Regions from separate parts of the Homo sapiens genome. Here region 1 is linked to region 2. Evidence: fine-mapped expression QTL. A gene starts in region 2. The other region holds a variant in brackets. All regions are shown on one strand. Distances are from middle to middle. Region 1 overlaps PPP3CC (protein phosphatase 3 catalytic subunit gamma). Region 2 holds the start of PPP3CC (protein phosphatase 3 catalytic subunit gamma).

What was found. PIP is the estimated chance that this variant, and not a neighbour inherited with it, causes the effect.
Region 1: its variant is fine-mapped to the expression of PPP3CC in whole blood (TOPMed, PIP above 0.99).

Annotation. Positions count from the first base shown.
Region 1 is chr8:22,535,096-22,546,989 of GRCh38, reverse strand. It overlaps PPP3CC (protein phosphatase 3 catalytic subunit gamma), which reads right to left. Exons shown (of 14, transcript NM_005605.5): 13 at 7,492-7,521; 14 at 5,865-6,375. The coding sequence ends at 6,188. The region is part of intron 1 of LOC124901905 (a long non-coding RNA gene); the gene reads left to right. It also overlaps a transcript of SORBS3 not described here. Among named protein-coding and RNA genes, the nearest start is that of SORBS3, 11 kb to the left of the region's middle. The variant T/A (reference allele first, on the strand shown) is at 7,459.
Region 2 is chr8:22,436,721-22,448,614 of GRCh38, reverse strand. It overlaps PPP3CC (protein phosphatase 3 catalytic subunit gamma), which reads right to left and starts at 7,537. Exons shown (of 14, transcript NM_005605.5): 1 at 7,157-7,537. The coding sequence starts at 7,205. RefSeq lists an enhancer at 3,982-4,141 and silencers at 7,015-7,674, 7,765-7,954.

The DNA of each region.
Region 1 (11,894 bases), 98 kb before region 2:
GGCAGTGCTGGATTTAGCTTTTCTACCTCTACTGCCATAACCTGTAGAGTCCCCTCACTGACACACTTTCCTCTCCAGGGCCCTGGCTCTTTCCCTATCCCCAATTCCCCACTTGCCCAGGGGAGCTTGTTTTTCCTTGTGAATCCACAGCACCTCATGATATTTCTACTTTTCAGAGGCATGAAAAGGCTAGTCTGACACTTCCCGTTCTTGGTAGGCCAACTCCACATTCAAATCCTCTTTGGCTGCCTTGGCTTCTCCAAGATGGAATTCACCATGTCTATTATTAGGATCACATGCACAGTCATTAAATTACAAGAGTACAAAACTATTTTTATCCTTGGTAAACAATGTATGTTTTCTGGGATGTCTTTCTTCCTTTTCTTCAAGTAGTGGCCTCTATTGGAGAAGCTGCAGAGGGGGCTGGGACTTGGGTAAGAAGGAGGCCAGGGTTGGGGAGTGGATTCTGAGTTGGGAGAAACAGAAACACGTTGTGGCCAACCATAGCTGCTTTAAAATGAAAGGGCTGGAGAGACGAAAGAGAGAGGTCCTTTTTATTGTGATGGGATTCCCTCCCTTGGGAGGGGAATTCCTTGTTATCATCAGAGACCAGACCAGACATCAAAAGCCAGGCTTTCTCCTGGGGTCTGGAATTATTAAATGAGTAAAAGCCAAATATAAGTACCTCCACCAGGAAATACAGGAAATAAAGACACAGGGAGCCAATAAAGTTATCATTTAAGGGTGTTTTCTTCTTTTTTTAAATCTTAAGATTACCTCTAATTTATAGTACAAAAGTCCTAACAAATTAATTTCTTGTTCACAAAAAAGACATTAGATGATTTCGGCCAATAAGTAACATTTCCCTCGCCTTCTTTAACATAACTGAAAGCAAGAAAAAGTAGGCAATCTCTAAGCACAAGCAAATAATCCATCATTCAGAACCTTGAAAAAATATCACACCACCAACTGGTCTGACGTCTTGACCACCTCACCATTTAGGAAGGAATACTGGGGCCCCTTCTTGGAAAATGCCTGCTGACAGAACTATTGGGAAAAACAGCTATGGGGGTCACCATGCACTGAGAAAATAAAAGTTAGGGATTTACAGTGTCATCCTCAAAAAGTTCTGTGACAAAAACACATCTTTATTGCCCCAAATCAAGATCTATGACAGGCCTGCTCCTCATTACATGCATTTCATGTTAAGAGTATTTGGAGACATCTACGTCAAGGGAGTGAAGGAATGTGGGCAAGAACTTACTGGAAGGCAGTGTGCTTGGCCCTACTTCAGAGCTGCTCAGAGGGACAGTCCGCCTCCATGTCCTCACTTCTTAATCTTAAGCCACCTAGACTTGCCATGAGGGCATAGAAGAGGAGATGATGCATAACCCTGTCTCAGACAAAGGTGTTATTTAGCAGGTCTTGCCAAGGTGGCAGGGGCGTGAGGCCAAGGCCTCCCGGGAGGGAATATACTCTCCAGTATCATCTTTACCTTTGTGACTGCATAGATGAAGGCAGCTAACACTGACCCCATTCACTCTCGCTGGCTAGATATAGGCAGGTCAGGTCCCAAACCCCAATGTAATATAGGCTCCCTCTTTCACACTCTGTCAATGGCACAAAGCCCTATTGTTAATACAGTTCTCTACTCACACTCAAGATAAGAGTAAACAACACTGTCCTTCGACTACACAACTTTCTTCCTCTACACACATCTGCTCTGACAGCTTTCCTCCAGGCGTCTCATCACAGCAATACTGAAAGGGACTGTGGCAAGCCAGTTTTGGGACCCGTCCTCCAGGTAACCCGACCCTCCTCAATCCACTGCTGGGCCTTCCTAGGCTGTCCTTTACTCACCTTCTAGCAGGTCTCAGAAAAGATGTGGACCCGGTGCCAGACAAGGTGGAAGCCATGGTTATAACCACAAACAATTTAGGAAATTGGAGCCCATACCCACAGATGGGCCCTGGGTTCACCCTCCCTCTGCCATCTTTTCTGCCTGGGCAAGGAAAGCTGGGTAATGCTTTAGGAGAAACTTGGGTTCCACTGTTACTATAACAACTAGAATAAATATTGGGGATTCTAGAATGGTACCTCAACAAGTCTTTATGGCTTAGGAAATAATTTTCAATGCAGAGATCAGAGAGAAAAACCCAATAATTAATAAAAAGAAAAATTATGAAATCAACCAATCTAGGGCAAGCTCTTCCTAAACCAATTTAATTGATTGGTCACCCAGATTGGTCAGGATGAAAATTCTTTTTTTTTTTTTTTTTTTTTTTTGAGACGGAGTCTCGCTCTGTCGCCCAGGCCGGACTGCGGACTGCAGTGGCGCAATCTCGGCTCACTGCAACCTCCAACTCCCTGGTTCAAGCAATTCTCCTGCCTCAGCCTCCCCAGTAGCTGGGATTACACGCATGTGCCACCACACCCAGCTAATTTTTGTTATTTTTAGTAGAGATGGGCTTTCACCATGTTGGCCAGGATGGTCTCGATCTCCTGACGTTGTGATCCACCGGCCTCAGCCTCCCAAAGTGCTGGGATTACAGGTGCGAGCCACCGCGCCCAGCTTGGATGAAAATTCTTAAAAGGTTAAACTTTATAGATATGGTACAGTTGAAAATTTTGGAGATCAGCTACCATATTTACATAAAATAGGGCAGGGTAGAGGGAGCAGATTTTAGCTTTACTCATTCTGAGGCTGGAGAGACTCCTGAATAATGACCATGAACAGCAAGTCCAGCTGTGTCTCATGCAGGCATGGCTTATAATATTTTTCCTATAGAGATCAGCTGTGCCTCAAACCGTGTGTTTTTAAAGCACTCAGAGGGAAGAGGATCTAAGGGACAATGCCAAAAGGCAAAAAAGGCCCCGAAATTATCCAATTTTTAAAAATCTTCCCTTGCTCCTTAATGACATTCAATAATAGTCTATTGACAAAACAAATAAGGGTTTCTCTGTTCCTATTTTGAACAATGTCAGGAAATCATCCCTAAGTTATCAGGATGGCAAAGAAAGCTAATCTTAAGAAGGCAAATCTTTGCTATTGAGAGAAACTTGCTTCATTGAATTGTTCATGGAAGAACCAAAAAAGGCAATGAAAGACATAAAAAATACTGATGTTCCTGGAGAGGCTGAGTCTTTTACTCCTAGGCAAGGAGCAGTATCAAGCTCATCAGAGTGTGATAAGCAATTCTTACCTTGCCAATCAATATCCAGTCACAAAAGACCAGCAAATCAGCAATGCCTCTACTTGTAACCAAAGTGTCACCTTGAGAGTTTAAGGAAAACGGAGGCTATTTTTGTTTTATCATTCTATTAAAGAAACACACACACACACACACACACACACACACACACACACACCCCCTTGGCTTATTGTTTTGCTTTTGCTCTAAACATTCAGAACACGGAAATAAAAAAAGGATATATGTTTTGAACTTACATTAGATGAGTTTTCAAATTTGTAAAAGAAATAATCATCTGATCGATTTAAATGTCCTGTGATATGTATGTCACTAAAAGTGAGAAACCTGGTCCATGTGAAGCATCATTTTCAAAATGGCATTTCAGAAAAGTTTACAAAGGAGTCCTGACATGCCTGAGGAATTGTTTTGTTTTTGTTTTCCTAAATGGGAGAAGTTGCAGAAAAAGAAGGTCCCTGTGGGCCTTCCACAAGGAAGGTCCTGTGAAGGAAAACACAATGTAACTGTTTCCAGTATCTTTAGCACACACAGGGGGAAACATTCAATAAAACAGAAGAGACTTTGAAAACACCAAAACTGCAGAACTTTGACAGCAATTAAAATGTCTGTTTAATCATGGCCCTAGACAGGAAAAGTAGTCTTCGAGCAAACCCAGGGCAGGGTCCAGCCATCTTGGAAGTTGTTGTTTACATTAAAACAGCTACAGAACGGAAGGGATAACTTTATCTTTAGAATTCAACCGAATTTTCAAACTTAACCTCCTCTAAGAGTTAGTGCTGCTCTAAAACTTACTCAGGTTTTCTTGAACCAGGACCACCTACCTCTCTACTCTGGCTGATTCCTCCACAGCTCAGAGGGAACCAGTGAAATACTGTATATAATTTTGTGATGGTTCTGTCAAGGAAACTTGCTTTATCATTCTGCTTTTTGAGACAATAGTGAAGCCATTCCTAAATAATCATCCGTAATAAAATATTATTTTTTGCTTATAAGGATTTACAGTAACTATTTCTACTACTGCCTGCTTATGGAGGCCCCTAAGAGTGGTTTCTACCTGTGGATTGTATATATGTAACAGCCTTAATGAAAAGGAGAAAAGGGATAAGGTACTAGCAGCTCTGCAGTCTGTCACATGGAATGACTTTCATCAGTGAAATTTCCAAAGACAGGATCTTTTCTAATCCTGGGATTGGAAAAGAAAGGAGCATAAGGATATCTAGGTGCTTAATACCCGATTTGAGTTCAACAACAATCAGGAAAAGACAGTTACTAGAGACTTTTCCCCCCTTCTTTCACAGGTTTTACTCACAACCCATTCAGAGATCCTTTATCTCCTTCCTATCTTTTTATTAATGGAGCAATCTATGCAGGCAGATTCCATTCCCTAAGAGTGCCTTGATTTCTGCCATAAACAAATCAGAAACTGTTAGAAAAAAAGGTATAGGAAAACAGAGATAGATGGGCTAAGTCTTCATTCTTCTAATGAGAAGTATGGTTTTTTGGGGAAAAAAAAAAACACCACCAAAATTATGTTGTTCTTTGTTTTTCTGGTTTCCTGGAAACTCCCAATATGAAGTATTACTGTCTGAAATACTTGCTTTAGTGCTAGACTGCCGCATCACAAATGACACTAAGGAATGCCATAAATGTGCACGTTCCATGCTCTGATGTAATGTTCCCAGGCATGTACATTCACTGCAGAGCTGACCAATGACTATTATGACACGGCTCCTGCGATGAGGCTAGTTAAAATGGGAGCCTAAGTAGCCCCAAAATTTCCTTCACTAGTTGGTTGTGACTTGAAAATCAAACTAAGGGAAGATAATTCACACACTACATCTGAACACTTGCTTTTCGCATTCCAAAATATGCTAATGAAGGCTGAAATACCATTCAACCTAAAGAGTAACTGATATAGAAGACAGGAAATCCTCACTTATCCAATGTTCTTTAGCAAGACCTTCAATTCACAAGGGGACCATTGAACTCTTGTCAGTTTCTACTACCCCAGCTGGTTTCAGTAATACTGACAGGGAACAACAGAAGGATGATGGGAAGGCACATGCGAGAGCTGATGCCAACAGCCTAGAAGGGCATATATACATCTTGTTGTAGAAGGTGCTGCTGAGGGCATTTATCAAATATTTAGAAAGTGACTTCCTTTACAGAAGTCACCTGGGGTTCAAAAATGAAAGTAAAATAATCTGGCAATTGTGAAAGCTTTCTGAAAATCTTTCTCCTCCAAAGTCCTAAGGAAATTTAAACCAATCATGCCCATGGTCAGATGAACAGATTTTAAGTAAATCTAAGAACATCCCTTATTATTTTTTATTTTGTTTACTAGAACATATTTAAACGAACTGAGAGTCCAGAGAAAGTAGGTTATTATAGAAAACATTTCCCTTCGCCCTTAAAATCACTGGATTTGGGTTATTCACTTTGAAGTTCTACTATGATCCAGTTTCCCATCAAAAGGGAAGCACTTTTAGCCACTGAAATCTAAGAGGACTTTCTTCAATGGCACCCAGCAGAAAAGGAAAAAAATGAAAAGGAAAAAAATCTTCTTGCATTTGAAACGTTATTAGTCTTACATGAAAGACATTACCTTCCAAAAAACAATAATGAAGACTGACTAGTTCAAGTCAGAAACCCAGGTTTGAGGTTTCCAAGGCCCTTTTATTAGGGGAAGTTCCCCTTTATAGCACAAGACTTCACAAATGTGTTGACAACAATCAGATTCATTTCTTAAAATTATGGAGAAAAAAGGGAAAAACAAAACAGATGCACTTTTTATATATATTGAACATAAATTAAAAGAATTTATAAAACAGCCACCTTTTTACAGAATAAATGCAGACTGAATTATAAATGCACCTCCACGTTGAAGTTGTTTTGAGTTGCTTTTCATTTTCCAATAATAAATAAATAGAATTTGTTCTTGAGTTTTAGATCCACCTGAGCCACGGCAGGACTCTAAGTCATGAATGGGCTTTCTTCCCTTGGTCGCTCCTGTGCGCAGCATGTGAGTGTGCTGAGGTTACAGATTTCATTGGCCCACCAGCGTGTATGCTATCCTTTCGGGGTGGCATTCGCTCATTAATTCGGTCCAGACCTCGCGCTTCTTCAAAACTCCGGATCTTGTGCTGAAGCGAGAACCCTCTGATGGCTACAGAAAAACAGGAAGCAGGTGGAGAGAGCTCAATTAGGCAGCAAAGCAACAGGCTTAAAAAAAGTTTCTTAGCACACAGCAACCTCCTAGAGAAACACACAGAAAGGTGGCTATGGAGCACACGTCTAGTGAAAGTCATGGGCAATGTCTGACTGAATCAGTCTTGGCTGCAGCTACTGCTTCCTTAAAGCCCAAAGGGCAGCTGAAATTGTGAAAGTAATTTTCATAAAAGCTCTATATGCATAATCATGGTAGACATATACCTAACAAAAAGCTAACAAGTACTTACTGGGCCCCAGTACCTTTAAGAAAGAGTGTCTTATGCACCAGAAACATACTCAATGCTAGAACAAAGGCAACACTAGAATAATTGAACAAGTTAAACCCAGGGTAGTTGCTTTTCGCACAAAGGCCACATAGACCACAAAAAAAAGTAACAAAAGAGCTAATCTTTTCGTTTAGGACAGCTTTCTATCTTGCACAACCAGGAGCTGTACATAAGTTAAAAACTTAAAAATAGCTTCTACATATTTTCCTTCCGATTCAACTTTTATAACACCAAGTTAAGGCATTCGCGTTTTGAACCATCTTACCTAATAAAACAATTACAAGTATAATACAAGTTTATCAGTTCCAATGGTTTTCATAGAAACAAAGTTAATTTAACTTGCCTACCTTAGGGCAACCTCAGAAATGAATTGAACTAAATTCCAGTCTACTTCTGCCTCTGCTCTTGAAATCTTTTAGAATCGCTGAAGAGGCTGACCTATTTGGCTCTCTTGAGAATCAAATGGATGTCTCTTGTACATGGAAGGGATACAGAAGTAAACCACTTGACCTCTCATGACCAGTTGCTTAAGCTTCTGCCGTTGCATTAAAGCTGATAGAGCCCAGAAAAAAAACTGTAGCTGTGGTGAAGGTTATTTAAAATTAATGCAAAGATAGGACACAAAGGAAACACCTGCTTCGTTAACATGCCTAGAAACAACTATACCTTTTCTCACTGTTATAGTTCTGGTGATGCAATAATAAAATATTTGAAATGTTGATAAAGCTTCGAAAAACCAGTACACAGACACA[T/A]GGATCACATCTATCAGAGTAATATGGCCATACCTTCCCGGGCCTCTACCGCTTCTACTGTGGCTGTAAGAGGGCAGGAGCAGTAGCATGCAAAAACGAAGACAGAAAAAGAGTGAGTAAACCAACAGCACTGATGGCAGCACAGCCATCCCAGGGGCCCGTTTTTTAGCCTATCCCCATCCATAATGAAAGTCAACTAGTTAGAGAAGCGAGAAGATTATTGCGAGAGACTCAATTGGGGTGGGAGGAATATGGGGTGGGGGAGAGTTTCTAATATTTTTAACATTTCAGGTGCCATGGAACATTGCTCTTTTCATTTTAGGTAGCCAACTGCTACTTTATATCTTGATATCCACGTATCGAAACAACATGTAGAATCAAATAGTTTGACATCACAACAATCCTTAGTTTGTAAAATATCTCAGGTGATATTAAATGAGCTACTGCTGGGTCCTATTCAAAAAGCTTATTTACAACTACATCTTACTGCTCTCAAGTGACTTATTTGGAGTCCAACTGCCCTATTAATTACTTCATTTAAAAAAAAAAGAGTGGCCTTTGAACAGCAGACTGGCATTTGGAAGGAGAGAAAAATAGGTTCCATGTGAAGGGTTATTTCTTGTCCAGGAGTGGAGTACAAAGCTAACAAAAGCATAGAACTATTGAATTCCTAATGCAAATGTGTGTACCCATCTGCTATAAAAATATAGCAGAGGCTAATGTTTCCAATCCATATGGCTTCCATACAGTGTTCAAGAGAGTTGGCCAGTAACTAAGAAAGCCCTCTTCTTTCTTAGCAATGGAAAAGGAAGCAACTTAAAAATTAGTACCAACAGGTAAACTTCCTTGCATCTCCTTTCTCAGACAGTAAAAACGCTAATATATGAAAAGGTACAGGGTGCCACAAGAAAGATCCTATTAGGAGAACCCTGTCAGTTACTCCAGTACCAATTTGCCAAAAGAAGGCAGTGAAGAATAATGAGCAGTAACAGTTTGCTGCTATTCCCAAGGCTTTATATATCAATATGAGAAGAGAAACTGAAAGAACTACATTAACTACCTAATGGAATGTGAAAAATGGATAACTGAAATCTACTTATGAAGTGCTTTCATTTGTCAACCATAGGCAGGCATGTATTAAATCACTGTCACACCCTCTCTAATCTCCTTAAGTAGAACAAATACCCTTGACAAGAAAGCTACAGTGCCTTCTCACAGCACATCACTGATGTAACTGTTAGGAAGTGGGAGAACAAAGCATTGCTGAAACTCTACACTGAGTGTTGGTCTAATTAGAGCTTAAAAGCTACACGGTAAAATGTGTATGATATTACCTTGTTTGGGGCCCTCCCAGAATTGCTATTCACATTGGGTATAAAGATAGCAGCCTGCAGTAAGGGCCATTATAAGAAACAGTCATATCAAATGACCCGAACTTTTGTTTTCCTTTTTAACATCTTAACTGAAATAGAATTCATATACCACAAAACTCACTTGTTTAAAGTATACAAGTCAATGGTTTTAATATAGTAGAGCTGTGCAACCATCACCACAATCTGTGCTTAGAATATTTTCATTGCCCCAATGAGAAATCCCCCACTTATTAGCACTCACTTCCCATTTCCTTCCCTCACCTCTTCCCCTTAATCCTGGTTGAACACGAATCTACTTTCTCTCTAGATTGGTCTGTTCTGGACATTTCAAATGAGTGGCATCATATAATATGTGGTCTGTAGTGACTGACTTCTTTCACTTAGCATAATGTTTTCAAGGTTCAGTCATGTTGACATGTATACCTGCATTTAATTCCTTTTTATGGCTGAATAGTATTCCATTGCGTTTACCACATTTTGTTTATCCAGTTTATGGACAATTGCTTTTTTCTGCTTTTTGGCTATTATGTTGAATGCCATTTATGAACATTTGTGTACAAGTTTTTGCGAGGACATATTTTCATTTCTTTGTGGGGTATGTAGCTATGACTGGAATTGCTGAGTAATAAGTCAATTCTATGTTTAATCATTTGAAGACCTGTCAGAATGTTTTCCAAAGCAGCTGTACCATTTTACATTTCCACCAGCAGTGTTAAGAAGGTCCCAATTTCTCCACATTCTCATCAACACTTCTTATTAACTGCTGTCTTTTCACAGCCATCCTACTGACTGTGAAGTGGTATCCCATTGTGGTTTTGATTAGCATTTTCTGAATGTCTAATGATGTCAAACATCATTTCATGTGCCATTTGTATGTCTTCATGGGAAAAATGTCAATTCAATTCTTTACCCATTTTTAACTGGGTTGTCTTCTTATTCAGTTGTAAGAGTATATTTTCTAGATACCAATCTCTTAGGAGATATATGATTTGAAAACATTTTCAACCATTCTGTGGGATGTCTTTTCATTTTCTTGATAGTACCATTTGCAGTACAGAGTTTTTAATTTTGATGTAGTCCAATTTATAACTGATCTGTTTTAATCTGATGGTCTTTGTGAATCTTGTCCTGTCCTTGGCTTTCCCCACTATTTTGGCTACTGGGATGCTTAGAGTCAAATTTGTGGCTATTGGCTTTATTTTTATTTACCTTTGTGCTTCAATTTCCAAGCATATTTATTTTACTCCACTATGTTTCATGTATACTGTAACTCACGCCAATCCCTCTTAGATCAAGGTGAGACATACATGAATGTATGTTACATGGCCATATGGGATACTGTTGGTTGAAAGCTCTCCAAGTTAAGTTATATGAACAATAAAAGGTCTTTTTTAGTTAATGCTCCAGTTAGCCAATGAGCTGGTGGAACTGAGACTCCAATGTGAAAATAACAAAATAAACTCACTTCCTGTGAATCAATAAGAATAAGAAACTCTAAAAAGTTGGCTCCAACTTTACCTTTGTTCTCACACATTACTGAAGATTTCTATCAACTTTGGAAGTATCAATCAATGGTCCTATCTTGATTAAAACACTCATATTCAACTCATACTTTGGGGCTGAGCCCAAAAGGTGACCAAGAATTAGAAACAAATTTCCAAATAACATAGCTATATAATTCTGTTGCTCAGCCCTGATTTGCAGATTTGCTTTCTCAAGGTTTAGACAAAGTTGGTTTCAATTAAAACAATTTTGTGGATCAGCAAATTTTCATAATGTTTACCTAAGGATGCTATAGGACATTCCTTTTTTTCTCTTAACTCATGTTACTGCCTATTACTCTATCTTTGTTGTCAGAGTTGCTCTCGGAATATCTCAGATGACTAATTACCAAGCAAAGCAATGGTGGGAACATATTCTGCTCACAAAAAACTGCACATTTATTTGAGAAAAATATTCAATCGGAAATAGTTTACTGATACTTTCTGTGAAACTAAAGGAACTAGGAAAATAAACTATACTTCCAAAGAGAAAATGTTCAGACTTCCTTCTAAATAGCTGAACTCTAATATCTCAGTATTCTATTTGAAAGAGAAGGAGGAATTCAATCTTATAAAAAGAAAAAAGGGCTGGGCACGGTGGCTCACGCCTGTAATCCTAGCACTTTGGGAGGCTGAGGCGGGCATATTGCCTGACCTCAGGAGTTCCAGACCAGCCTGGGCAACATGGTGAAACCCCATCTCTACTAAAATATAAAAAATTATCCGGGCATGGCGGTGTACGCCTGTAGTTCCAACTACTTGGGAGGCTGAGGCAGGAGAATTGCTTGAACCTGGGAGGCGGAGATTGCAGTGAGGCAAGATCGTGCCACTGCACTCCAGCGTGGGCAACAGACCAAGACTCTGTCTCCAAGAAAAGAAAAAAAATGGGTTTGTCCCTGTTAGTCAATAGCAATGAAATTTCTACAAAAGAAAAAGGACTCCTATAAATGGCAGGATGGCCAGGCACAGTGGCACATGCCTGTAGTCCCAGCCACTCGAGTAGCTGAGGCAGGGGGATTGCTGGAGCCCAGCAACCGGGCGCTGCCATGAGCTATGACAGTACCTAGCCATTACATTCTAGCCTGGGCAACTCTGTCTCTTGGGAAAAAAAAAGAAAAAGAAAAAAGGCCAGATGAACGATGAGGTGGGAAAAAAACTAAATAGAAACAATTCAACAAAACAAGGGGAGCAAAAAAAGCAGTTAAACTTTAGTTTAAGATATTAATGCTTCAATACCAATTTTCATACCTAGTGTTAGTCACCCAGTAATATGATCTCCTGTCTCTTCCCCTTGCATGTTTATTCTCACGAACATCAACCTTTTCATTCCGGGATTCCAGAAAGCCCTTTCCTAAGAAGTCAGCTCCTGGGTAAATTTCAGAATTGGTACTCTGATTGAAGAGGTGATTTTGGCACTGGAATAGAATATGGCTGCAGGGAAAGAGGCAAACTCCCTCTCTGATTGAGAAACTGCAACCCCCTCAAACTGTTTTCTTTAAGGTACAAAATATACACGAGGCAC
Region 2 (11,894 bases):
CTGAGGTCGGGAGCTCGAGACCAGCCTGACCAATACGGAGAAACCTCGTCTCTACTAAAAATATAAAATTAGCCCAGTGCGGTGGTGCATGCCTGTAATCCCAGCTACTCGGGAGGCTGAGGCAGGAGAATCGCTTGAACCCGGCAGGCAGAGGTTGCGGTGAGCCGAGATCACGCTATTGCATTCCAGCCTGGGCAACAAGAGCGAAACTCCATCTCAAAAAAAAAAAAAAACAAAAAAAAGGTATAATACCGTCTAATATATACACCATATTCAAATTTTCCCAGTTATCCCCAAAATGTCCTCTATGGTTTTTTGTTTTCTTAATCCAGGCTTGACACTGTACTTGACTGTCATTTCTCTTTCAACTTCTTTCATCTAGAACAGTCTTCCTGCCCTTTTTGTTTCGTTTCGTTTTCACCACTTTGAAATTTTTAGAGTTCAGGCCAACTGTCTTGTAGAAAGTCCCACAAACTGGATTTGTCTGATTGTCTACTATAACTAAGCTCAGCTTAAATTAAACACCTTTAGCAAGAATGTTACATAGGTAATTACTGAATGAATTCTTCAAATATTTCTCAGTGTTTGTTCATTTAGAATTTCAGTCTCTTGGGCTGACATTGTCTAGACACTGCAAAAAAACCTTCATGAACTGTTAGCAATTAGTAAATCTAGTAATGATCATCAAAGAAATACATTATCTTGTCCAGCCATCCAGTATATCTTTCTGTGCCCAATTTAAAGATCCTGGTTACCAAGTTAAACCCTCTTCAAACAACAAACGAAGACTCAAGAAACTAAAAGACTTCAGGATAATCTAAAGTGCCAACAAAACAAAATTGAATATGGGGAACTAAAAGTTCTCTCTACATTCATCTGGATAACCAGATAGAATATAAGGGTAACTAAGAAAGATACCACTTAGGTTAGGTTGAAAGTTTTAGGCCTCAGTTTTGAAATGTAAAATGCTGCTAAATTTTAACATTAAGACTATAAAAGGCAGGGCGCAGTGGCTCACACCGTAATCCCAGCACTTTGGGAGACAAAGGCAAGAGGATCGCTTGAGCCCAGGAGTTCAAGACCAGCCTCAACAACAGGGCGAAACTCCACCTCTATAAAAAATACCAAAATTAGGCCAGGCTCGGTGGCTCACGCCTGTAATCCCAGCACTTTGGGAGGCCGAGACGGGCGGATCACGAGGTCAGGAGACCGAGACCATCCTGGCTAACACAGTGAAACCCCGTCTCTACTAAAAATACAAAAAAAAATTAGCCGGGCATGGTGGCAGGTGCCTGTAGTCCCAGCTACTCAGGAGGCTGAGGCAGGAGAATGGCATGAACCCGGGAGGCAGAGCTTGCAGTGAGCCGAGATTGCGCCACTGCACTCCAGCCTGGACGACAGAGCGAGACTCTGTCACAAAAAAAAAAAAAAAAAAAAAATTAGTTGGACACGGTGGCGTATGCTATGCCTGTGGTTCCAACTACTCGGGAGGCTGAGGTGGATCACCTGAGCCCAGGAAGCTGAAGCTGCAGCGAGCCATGATCGCGCCACTGTACTCCAGCCTGGGCAACAGAGCGAGACCCTGTCCCCCACCAAAAAAAACTATAAACGGGCATTATAGTCTAGTAATGATTGCACCAAAGGATGGTAATGATTCTAAGACATCCCTTTATTCCCATTAGTCATTTAGCAATTAAGTAGCAGCAAAGTTCCAAAATGACTACAAATCCCGGAATTAAATGAATAATTTTGTCTCTAATAGAGACATGTCTAAAAATCAGCTTTTTTTTTTTTTTTTTTTTTTTTTTTGAGACAGAGTCTTGCTCTGTCACCCAGACTAGAGTGCAGTGGCGCAATCTCAGTTCACTGCAACTTCTGCCTCCCAGATTCAAACGATTCTCCTACCTCAGCCTCCTAAGTAGCTGGGACTACAGGTGTGCACCACCATGCCTAGTTAATTTTTGTATTTTTAATAGGGACTGGGTTTCGCCACGTTGGCCGGACCTCAGGTGATCCACCCACCTCGGCTTCCCAAAGTACTGGGATTATAGGCGTGAGCCACCACGCCTGGCCTAAAAATTAGCTTTTTCCAAAAATGTTACCTTAATAGAAAGACATTCAATTCCTAGTATCAAATACTGCTTAGGAAAAGGTCTTTAATTAATTATTTCACTTTAAGTAATGAGTCCTTAGCATTTTTCTCTCAGAGTCCCTTGTTTTTTTCACTTTACAGTAAGATGTGATTAGTATGTTACTTTACAAATATGACGTTAGACGCCAGAATAATGGTTACAAGTGTCATATTTTCCCCACTGTTGCCCATTTAGGGATGGAAACCAGTGGACTGAACGTGAACTCATGCTTGTTTCTGGGATTCTGGTAATCTATTTATTTTGGTTGAGTGGTTACATGGGTATGTGGGTGCTAAATTTGTAAAAACTCACTAAGCTGTACATTTATAATTTGTACATTTTCCCATATACACTCCAGTAAAAGTTATGGTACACTAAAAATTACGTAAGGCAAAAAAAATTTTTAATCCTATTTTAAAATGCAATAAAAGAGAGAAAGCTTAATTATCAAATGTCAGACCATAAATAAAGCTTTGATCACAACCAATAACGTATAGGTAAGAAAGAATACTTTATCCTTGCTCAAAAAGAAAAAAATTAAGTGTTTAAATTAAGATGCCCTTTCAGAGGTTCCAGATTTCTACTCAGATGTATGAATCTCGATTAGCACTGATTTTGAATGTTTCAAAAGTTTGGCAGCTTGTTAATCACAATGGTAAATGAAGCATAAATTAAACAAATACTGTTGACAAATCCAGGAGATATCAACTTTAAAACGTATTCACATTGAAAATTTATACTTGAAAATGTTTCTTCTGGGTTGGTATTGTATCAAGTGACTAATGTGTCCCCACTGAAAATATAAAGAACCAAAATATTAATATAAGCACTCTAAAACCATTTCCATGCTGATTGAAACCATTATGGAAATATTTAGGTAAAATTACAATATTTATGTTAAAATAATATGAAATATTTGCATAACAAAAGCTTTAATATGTGTGATCCATTTTCCTTTGAATTCAAAATATACCTGCAGATGGAAACACACAAAGGTATTAAAAGCAGTTATTTCTGCTGGGAAGGAATATGAAGTCTTTCTTTTCTTCCCTTTCTGATTTTCAAATTGTATAAGTAGCAGGATTAAGCTTATATTTAAGAGAAAAAATTTTAAACCCTCGGTAAATCCATTATGGATATAAAAAAGGGAGAGTCGGGGGAGAGTTGTGGAAAGAAATGAAGTATAGGTACCAGAGATTGAAATCGGGTTTAGGGTATATTTGTAGAAATAGCAATTTTTGTCCACACTAATATTAAAATATTTTAAGAAAGCCATAAGCACAATATTCCCAGTGCCACGATATTAAAGAAACAGTAGCCTGCCATGTGTGGTAAAAATGGTACAGTACTCTGTGAATACACAATATATTTGAATTCTAAGAGAAAGGGAGAAATGTATCAGCACCTTACTAAAAAGAAATCTGACTTTTCTGTTAAACCCCATCTGGCCATAAAGTAACAAAATAAGACAATGGATTCTCTATATTTGTCATGTAATTCCTACTGAAATTTCCTTGTTGCTTCTGAAAAGATTCATTCCAGGGAAATAAACTGCTTTTATAAAAATCACTGTCAAAGAAAAAACATGTCCTTAAACAGGAAAAGGAACGTGGAAACTAGAAAAAAAAATAAAGCAGACAGAATATCACAATTTAATCATTTGGGTGCCTAGTTCTCTGGCTTAGATACCAGTTATGGTGCCCCAGTGCATATAAACTGCTCTAAAGGCTCACAGAAATGCTACTTTTAAAGCAAAGAAGAAATGAATGAGCAACCTACTAGGGTACATTGCAGATGGCACTCAATAAACATTTAATGAATGAGTAAAATCATAAGAAGGTTTAAACATAAAATAAACACCTTCAACAGATAGAGAAGAAATCTGCTGCCTAGGGAGTACCAGACAGAACTGTGCTGATCTCTTCACATTGTTACCGACGAGATTTCACCCACATATCCATTATGCTGTAGAATAGGTATTCACCTGACTAGGAACAGTTTTGTAGCTTATAATTTCACATACTTTCTGATATTTTCAAATGTTAATGATATCTCTACTAACTACTTCTGTAGTAAGCGATCTATTACCAACCTATTATCATGTCTCAAAGTACTACCTTAACTTGACCTTTTCACATGCTTTATGTCACTTGCATGACCCAGGCTTGACAGGGAAGGTATTATTAACCCTATTTTACAGATGAGTTTTTTTTTTTTTTTTGGCTTGAGACTGAGTTTCACTCTTGTCGCCCAGGCTACAGTACAGTGGCACAATCTTGGCTCACTATAGCCTCTGCCTCCTGGGTTCAAGCGATTCTCCTGCCTCAGCCTCCCAAGTAGCTGGCATTACAGGTGTGAGCCACCACGCCCAGCCACATCCTTCAATTTAAGAAAGCTGCTATTTAAAGGACACCTAAAATACAAACCTCTCCCACATACCCACTCTTCTCCAAAATTTGCTCAAATAGAACAATTAGGTACACTTTAAAGTTAACAGGAAATGACAGAAACAAAAATAGCTGGGGTGTGGTATCACCTCTGAAAAAGCTTTCAAGCTGTGAATAAATGCAGACAGCTGTGACTAAACAAGATAGCATCAGACCAGGGTTTAGTACCCGTTACAATGGACCTTAGCTATGCACACGTGACACCTCATTTTCTTCAACTATTTCAAACTCTGGAAAACCCTGAAAAAAGCACCATAAGTCATCATGAAGCCACAAATGCTGTGGTCAAGCTCTTATGCCGAAGTTTTTATATAGGAGAGAAATCCATACATTCTAAGGACCTGAAATTATTTCTATTTCATTTATTTAAGAGCAGTCTTAAAAGTACACAATATTCGGTAATTAATTTTGGTAAAGAACAAATTTGCATCCTGCAGGATATGATGACAGTGTTTATTTAATAATAAGCATGCGTAGCAATAAACCAGCCCCTGCTTTTTTTTTTTTTTTTTTTTTAGAGAGAGTTTCACTCTGTTGCCCAGACTGGAATGCAGTGGCACCATTTTGGCTCACTGCAACCTCCGCCTCCCGGGTTCAAGCAATTCTCGTGCCTCAGACTCCCAAGTAGCTGGGATTACAGTGCCCGCCACCATGCCCAGCTAATTTTTGTATGTTTAGTAGAGATGGAGTTTCGCCATGTTGGCCAGGCTGGTTTCGAACTCCTGACCTCAGTGATCTGCCTATATGGGCCTTCCAAAGTGCTGGGGTTACAGGCGTGAGCCACCATGCCTGCCCCTAGCCCCTGCATTTTAACTTTTTTATTTTATTACATTTTATTTTACAATATTTATTACTATATTTAAGGGTCATTTAAGATTTTTAATCTTCTTTTGATCTTATGGCATGTTATGGTGGAAATTACATGGCACAATGGTGATTTGATTGTGAGATTCCTGAGGGCTGCACTAAGCTTCACTAAGATCCTATTTATTCTGACTTGACCCACAGTTCTGGCTTATCTGGTTTCCCTGCCTACTTCAGCTAAGACGTAGCAGATTAGAAAGCAGTTAAGGGCATATTTTGACAGAAAACAGTACTGGAGAGAGAAACTAAAAGCAAACAAAACACTGAACTGGTATAGCATTGCGAAGTCATTTTAGTACAGGACGAAACTGCTAACAACTTTATACAGCAGAACGCACCGGCCATATTAACAGCACAGTACAGAAATTAATGTACATAATGACCTTGATTCCTCAAAAAAGGTTATGTTAAGTACACTCTGAATCTTAAGAGAGGGCTATATACTTCTTATAGGCTATACACTAATAATATGAAGACACATTTAAATGGTCACAATAATTTAGCTGTTCAGGGGATAATGTCAGTTAGATGAACAATTCAGTTAAACCTCTAACGATAGCATACAAATGCTAAGCAGATAAATCTCAAAAATCCCATTATAATTATGTAGTACAGATAATTAACATTTATGAGGCTGATTTGGGGAGAGAGGGGGGAAACCTAAGTTATACACTAAAATTCTTCCCCCTCCCTGAACATGCAATAAGGCGTTTCACCTTTTAAAAATGTATTCCCGTCACTAGTATTAGTTGCCTTTCTCCTTCTAATACCAAAATGAAAAAGAAGAAAAGTATCTTAATAATTTTCCCCACTGTCACGCTAACCCCTGCATCCAGAGGCCACTAACACAGCTGGTCTAAGTCTATTCCCTTCTTACAAAATAGCGCTTTCAAACCGATTGTTAATCTCAGAGAGAAGGGTTGTGCCTAAGACTTACGGCTGAATAAAAGCAGCACATAAATTAGTGGTTATGTGTAATCCATCTTCTTAGTTTAAAGGGAGAAACAACTATAACCTAAAACTCTACAAGATTTAGAGAGCAAAGAGCCCTTTACATTTTGTTCTTATAACAACAACAGAAATCTAACGCAGGTACACATATGAATCAGAAAACGTCATTCTCCAAGTCTTTATAACCAAAGGGAAAATAAAATACCATTACCCTGTCAAGAGCTCCGTAAACTTATTTTAAACATCATATAATGGATTTATCTGACTTGTTCATACTAAGTTTATTCCAGTAATAGCAGTGACTTGCAATGATCTAGAGAAAGCGGGTCAAAAGGCACATGGTATACGTCCTAAAAAAGGGTGGGGGGCGGACGTCAAGAAAGATCTAATCTTAAATATCTTACTTGGAAGAGTCGACTCCCTGCTCACACCACCCCCGATGGCTTCCCCCGAGTCGTTTCTTAAAGAGAAAAAAAGACAGGGATCCGGGCCCTTCGGGGCGGTGGGAGAAGAAGTCCCCACTGCACCCTGAACCCTTCGGGAGGGAACTTGGCACTGACGGCCAGGCACCTGACCAGGTGCAGCAGAAAACGCCGGGTCCGGGTGGCTGCTCTCGGAGGCTGCCGCCCGGCTCTGTCTACACCCCTCCGAGCCCTCCTAGGGTGGGCGCAGCCCGGCCCCAGCCTCCCTCCGCCCCGAGCCGCCGCCCAGCCGAAGGCCGTTTCCCGCGGGTCCCAGAGGAAGGCCCGGCCCGCCAGGCACCTTTGATGACGCGGTCGGTGGTGGAGAGGTGGAAGCGCCTCCCGGACATGGTCCCCTCGGCCTCCTCCAGGCTCCAGGAGCCCGCCGGACGTGCGCCTACGCCGCGGCCGCCGCCTTCTCCTCGGGCAGCCTTAGCTGCCCGGAGCCGTCAGCCAGCCGTGCCCGGCCCCGGCTCCTCAGCGGTGTCCGAGCACCAGAAGGGCGCGGCCACCGCAGCGCCGGCCTCCGACGCCACTGACAGGACGAGGGCCCACCGGCCGCTCTCTTGGGAGGCGCCAGCGGCTAAGGCGGGGAACACCGCTTCGGCACCGACCGCGACCGCTGCTAAGGGTGGCGACCGGGACGGCCGCGGCTGCTCGCGGCCCGGGCCCTCGTGCACGCAAGCGCGCCCCCGAGCGCCGCTCTCACAACTTCCCAGCGGCCCCGCTGTCCTAGCGGACCCGGCCGGGCCTCCCGCCCCGAGCGCCGCCCTCCCCACCCTTCCGCCTTCCCGCGAGGCAGTAGAGCTCGGCGCACGCGCTGCTCTCGGCTCCTCCGGCTCCGGGTCCCTGCTGCTAACCGCCCATTTTCGCTTCTTCTCAGCCAGCCCTCCCCGCAGCCGGCCCCTTCTCTCCTGCCAGCCCCTACCCGGGCCCGGAACATCTGAAACCCGCCCGCGTGGCCCGCGCGACCCGCGCGGGAGGCCGGCCCGGCCATCTTGCGACCCGGCCCTGCGGCCTCGCAGCGGCTCCGCGCCGCCTCCTGGGACCGCCTCGCCGAGAACCCCTGGCCTCCCAGTCCTCGCCCACAGGCGACCACCCTCCTCACCTCTGGGTCTCCCACCCGCTTTGTCTCAAGGAGTGTGATCAGTCCGGCCGCGCTCCTTCAGTTTTTGTGGGTCATTCAACAAACGCACACATTTAAACCCCCTCGCTTCATCTTTCCCGCTTGTTGAGTGCAGTTAGTACAATGAGAAGGACATTCGTGTCCATCCTAGTTCCAGTCCAGTAGCTAGGGCGGTGGGGGATTGGGGGAGCTCCGTTTCTGAGCAAGGCTCTGCTCCCTCCTCACTTTCCACATCGAAGAGAAGGGAGATCTCTGCTCCTGGGACCCCCGGGCCGGACCTCCTCGGCCACAAGAACTGACCTCTTCCTATGCCCTGTGTGTCACCTGCCCAGCTAGAAGCCCCTTTTTTCTTCCCCCTGACACAGTACCTGCCTCCCCGGCCCAGGCTCACTGTGGAACCCCATGGGCAAGTCCGTAGAAACTTAACAGTCTGTTCATCTCGAGGTTAAAAACTAACCTTTATCTGTCCTTAAAACTGTAAGCCTAGAACAGAAACTGGCTCCAACTGTCCTCTCACTGAGTAACTGGCAAAGTCAAAAGGATTTTGACTTTTAGCAATGCAAATGAAATATTGAAACTGATGTCCAATAAAACATATGCAAGTTACAGGCAAAACCAGTCTTAACAATTACCGCAGTGACCGATAAGTAGTTGTAGCTATGTAAATTTAAATTAATCCCGTTCCTCTAGGGGACTAGCCACATTTCAAGTGTTCAAGAGCTACACGCGGCTACCTTATTGGACATCCAGAAAATTCTACTGGACAGCTGTTAGGTAAAAGATTATAGGATTAAGCGTAAATCTCCAATAATATGGATTTATGTATAGGCGGTCTGGGGATATATAGTGGAATCAGACCCTGAATTATCCCTTGGAATTTTGACCATAGCTCTTTGATGGTAACCGCAGGAGGCAAAAGGACTTTAGGAGCCGACTAGAATTTGGTTTTCGTTTTCATGATCCTTGAGTCTTCCACCCAAGAGAATTGTTCAGATATCCTGGGGAAACTCTTCATTTAAGAAGTAACCAGAACTCCACGCCTATCAAATCATACCCCTGGGTCAGAGGCTAAAATTCATCTGGAAGAACCTCAACAGGATAGCTAAAAATAAAAAGTTTAAGAAAACATTGCGGGCCGGCAAAAAAGAAAAAAAAAAAGACCGGGTGGGGTGGCTCACGCCTGTAATCCCAGCACTTTGGGAGGCCGAGGTGGGTGGATCACGAGGTCAGGAGATCGAGGCCATCCTGGCTAACACGGTGCAACCCCGTCTCTACTAAAAATACAAAAAATTAGCCGGGCGTGGTGGCAGGCGCCTGTAGTCCTAGCTACTTGGAAGACTAAGGCAGGAGAATGGCGTGAACCCGGGAGGCGGAGCTTGCAGTGAGCCGAGATCGCGCCACTGCACCACTCCAGCCTGGGCAATAGAGCGAGACTCCGTCTCAAAAAAAAAATAAAATAAAGAAAGAAAGAAGGAAAGAAAGAAAAAACATTGCGGGCCGGGCAAGGTGGCTCACGCCTGTAATCCCAGCACTTTGGGAGGCCAAGGCAGGCGGATCACCTGAAGTCAGGGGTTTGAAAACAGCCTGGCCAACGTGGTGAAACCCCGTCTCTACTAAAAATACAAAAATTAGCCTAGCGTGGTGGCACATGCCTGTAATCCCAGCTACTCGAGAGGCTGAGGGAGGAGAATCGCTTGAATCCGGGAGGCGGAGGTTCCAGTGAGCCAAGATTACGCCCCGGCACTCCAGCCTGGGTGACAGAGCGAGACTGTCTCCAAAAAGAAAAAAAGAAAAAGAAAACGTTGCAGGCCGGGCACAGTGGCTAATGCCTGTAATCCCAGCACTTTGGAAGGCTGAGGTGGGCGAATCACCTGAGGTCACGAGTTTGAGACCAGCCTGGCCAACGTGGCAAAAACTCATCTCTGCTAAAAATACAAAAATTAGCTGGGCGTGGTGGTGGACGCCTGTAGTCCCAGCTACTCGGGACGCTGAGGCAGGAGAATCGCTCGAACCCGGGAGGCGGAGGTTGCAGAGAGCCAAGATGGTGCCACCGCATTCCAGCCTGGGCACAGAGACAGACTCCATCTATCTCAAACACAAAACCAAAAAACCCCACAAATACTAACTCGTTCAATCCTCACACCAACCCCATTTATATGATTATCCCCATTTTACAGATAAGGAAACTGAGGCACAGAGATGTGAAGAAACTTGCCCAAAGTCACAGAGCTGGTAGGAGGCTTAGTGAACACCATCATCGTCAAGAGACGTGCAGTACCTGAACTTTTTCTATAGCACCACGAACTTTTTCTATAGCACCACGTGGAATATGCGGCATGAGTCCTCAAGCATGGTATACATGAATTTACAGAATCCAGATGTCATTCTGTAGCTTGGCTTTAGCAAAGTAATTGTGAGCAACTTGCAGCCCTGTCCCTTCGTGTCCCCACCCCCACTTTTTTTTTTTTTTTTTTTTGAGACGGAGTCTCGCTCTGTCACCAGGCTGGAGAGCAGTGGCGTGATCTCAGCTCACTGCAAACTCCACCTCCTGGGTTCAAGTGATTCTCCTTCCTCAGCCTCCCAAGTAGCTGGGACTACAGTCGCATGCCACCACACCCAGCTAATTTTTTTGTATTTTTAGTATTTTTAGTAGAGATGGGGTTTCACCATGTTGGCCAGGGTGGTCTCGATTTCCTGACCTCGTGATCTGCCCGCCTCGGCCTTCCCCACCCCTTTCTAAGGAGATTCACTCAGTAGCTCTGCCTTTCTCCAAGTTCCTTGCTGGTCCTCTGTTTCAATAGCTGCTTAGTCTTCCAGCAACAGCCAGTGACACCCAACAGACCTTGATACCATCACTTCCAGCTGTGGGCATGGGTAAGTTCCTTCACTTCTCAGGCCTTGCTTTCCTCTTTTGTAATATGGGGATGATAATATTAATAGGCCCTCCCTGTAGCAGAGGCGGGGATGCCCTGCCCAGATCCCCTTCACCATGAGGGATAACCATCTTCTGGTTGCTGCTGTTTTTGTTTTTGTTTTTGTTTTTGTTCTAAGAGAGAGATGAGGTCTTGCTCTGTTGCCCAGGCTGGAGTGAAGTGGTGCCATCATAGCTCACTGAAGCCTTGAACTGCTGGGCTCAAGTGATCCTCCTGCATCGGCCTCTCAAAGTACTGGGATTATAGGCATGAGCTACCGTACTCTGCCTGTTTCTTGAGGGCTGGTGGCTGACAGTTCATTGCTGCCCCTTCTCCAGAGAATTGCCTTAGGTTGAATGGGCGCCCCTTCCCCTAAGGAGTTATGACCATCCCTCCCCCAGTCCTAGGGGCAATGGCTATCAGGGCCTCCAGGTCAGACTAAGTTTGCCTCAAGGTAAGAATATCTTTGTGGTACAACTCAGGCTCCAGAGCTTGCTGTGAGAACAGACTGAACTATAGGAACACATTAAATGAGGTTCATTTTATTTGGATGTTATGAGATGGCCCCAACTTGAGATCTAAATACAGTAGTCGGTTAATTTTTCCATTACTATTATTGAATAATACATCCCTTCCCATTGGTTTGCAATGTTTTCTTTTCTTTTTCTTTTCTTTTCTTTTTTTTTTTTCTTTTAATTGAGACAGAGTCTCACTCTGTCGCCCAGGCTGCCCAGGCTGGAGTGCAGTGGCACAATCTAGGTTCACTGCAACCTCCGCCTCCCCGGTTCAAGCAATTCTCCCTGCCTCAGCCTCCCGATAGCTGGGATTGCAGCCCTGCTCCTAATAGTTCTCCTCACTTTCTATCTCTGTGTTTGGAAGAGGGCGTTAGATCCATGGATTTCTCCGGGAGGAAACCAGGTTGGAAAGGCTTTGATCTGTATAAGCTGAGACCACCAGAAACCTTCACCCATCGCATTGGTGCTTTCCCATCCTAGTAGAGG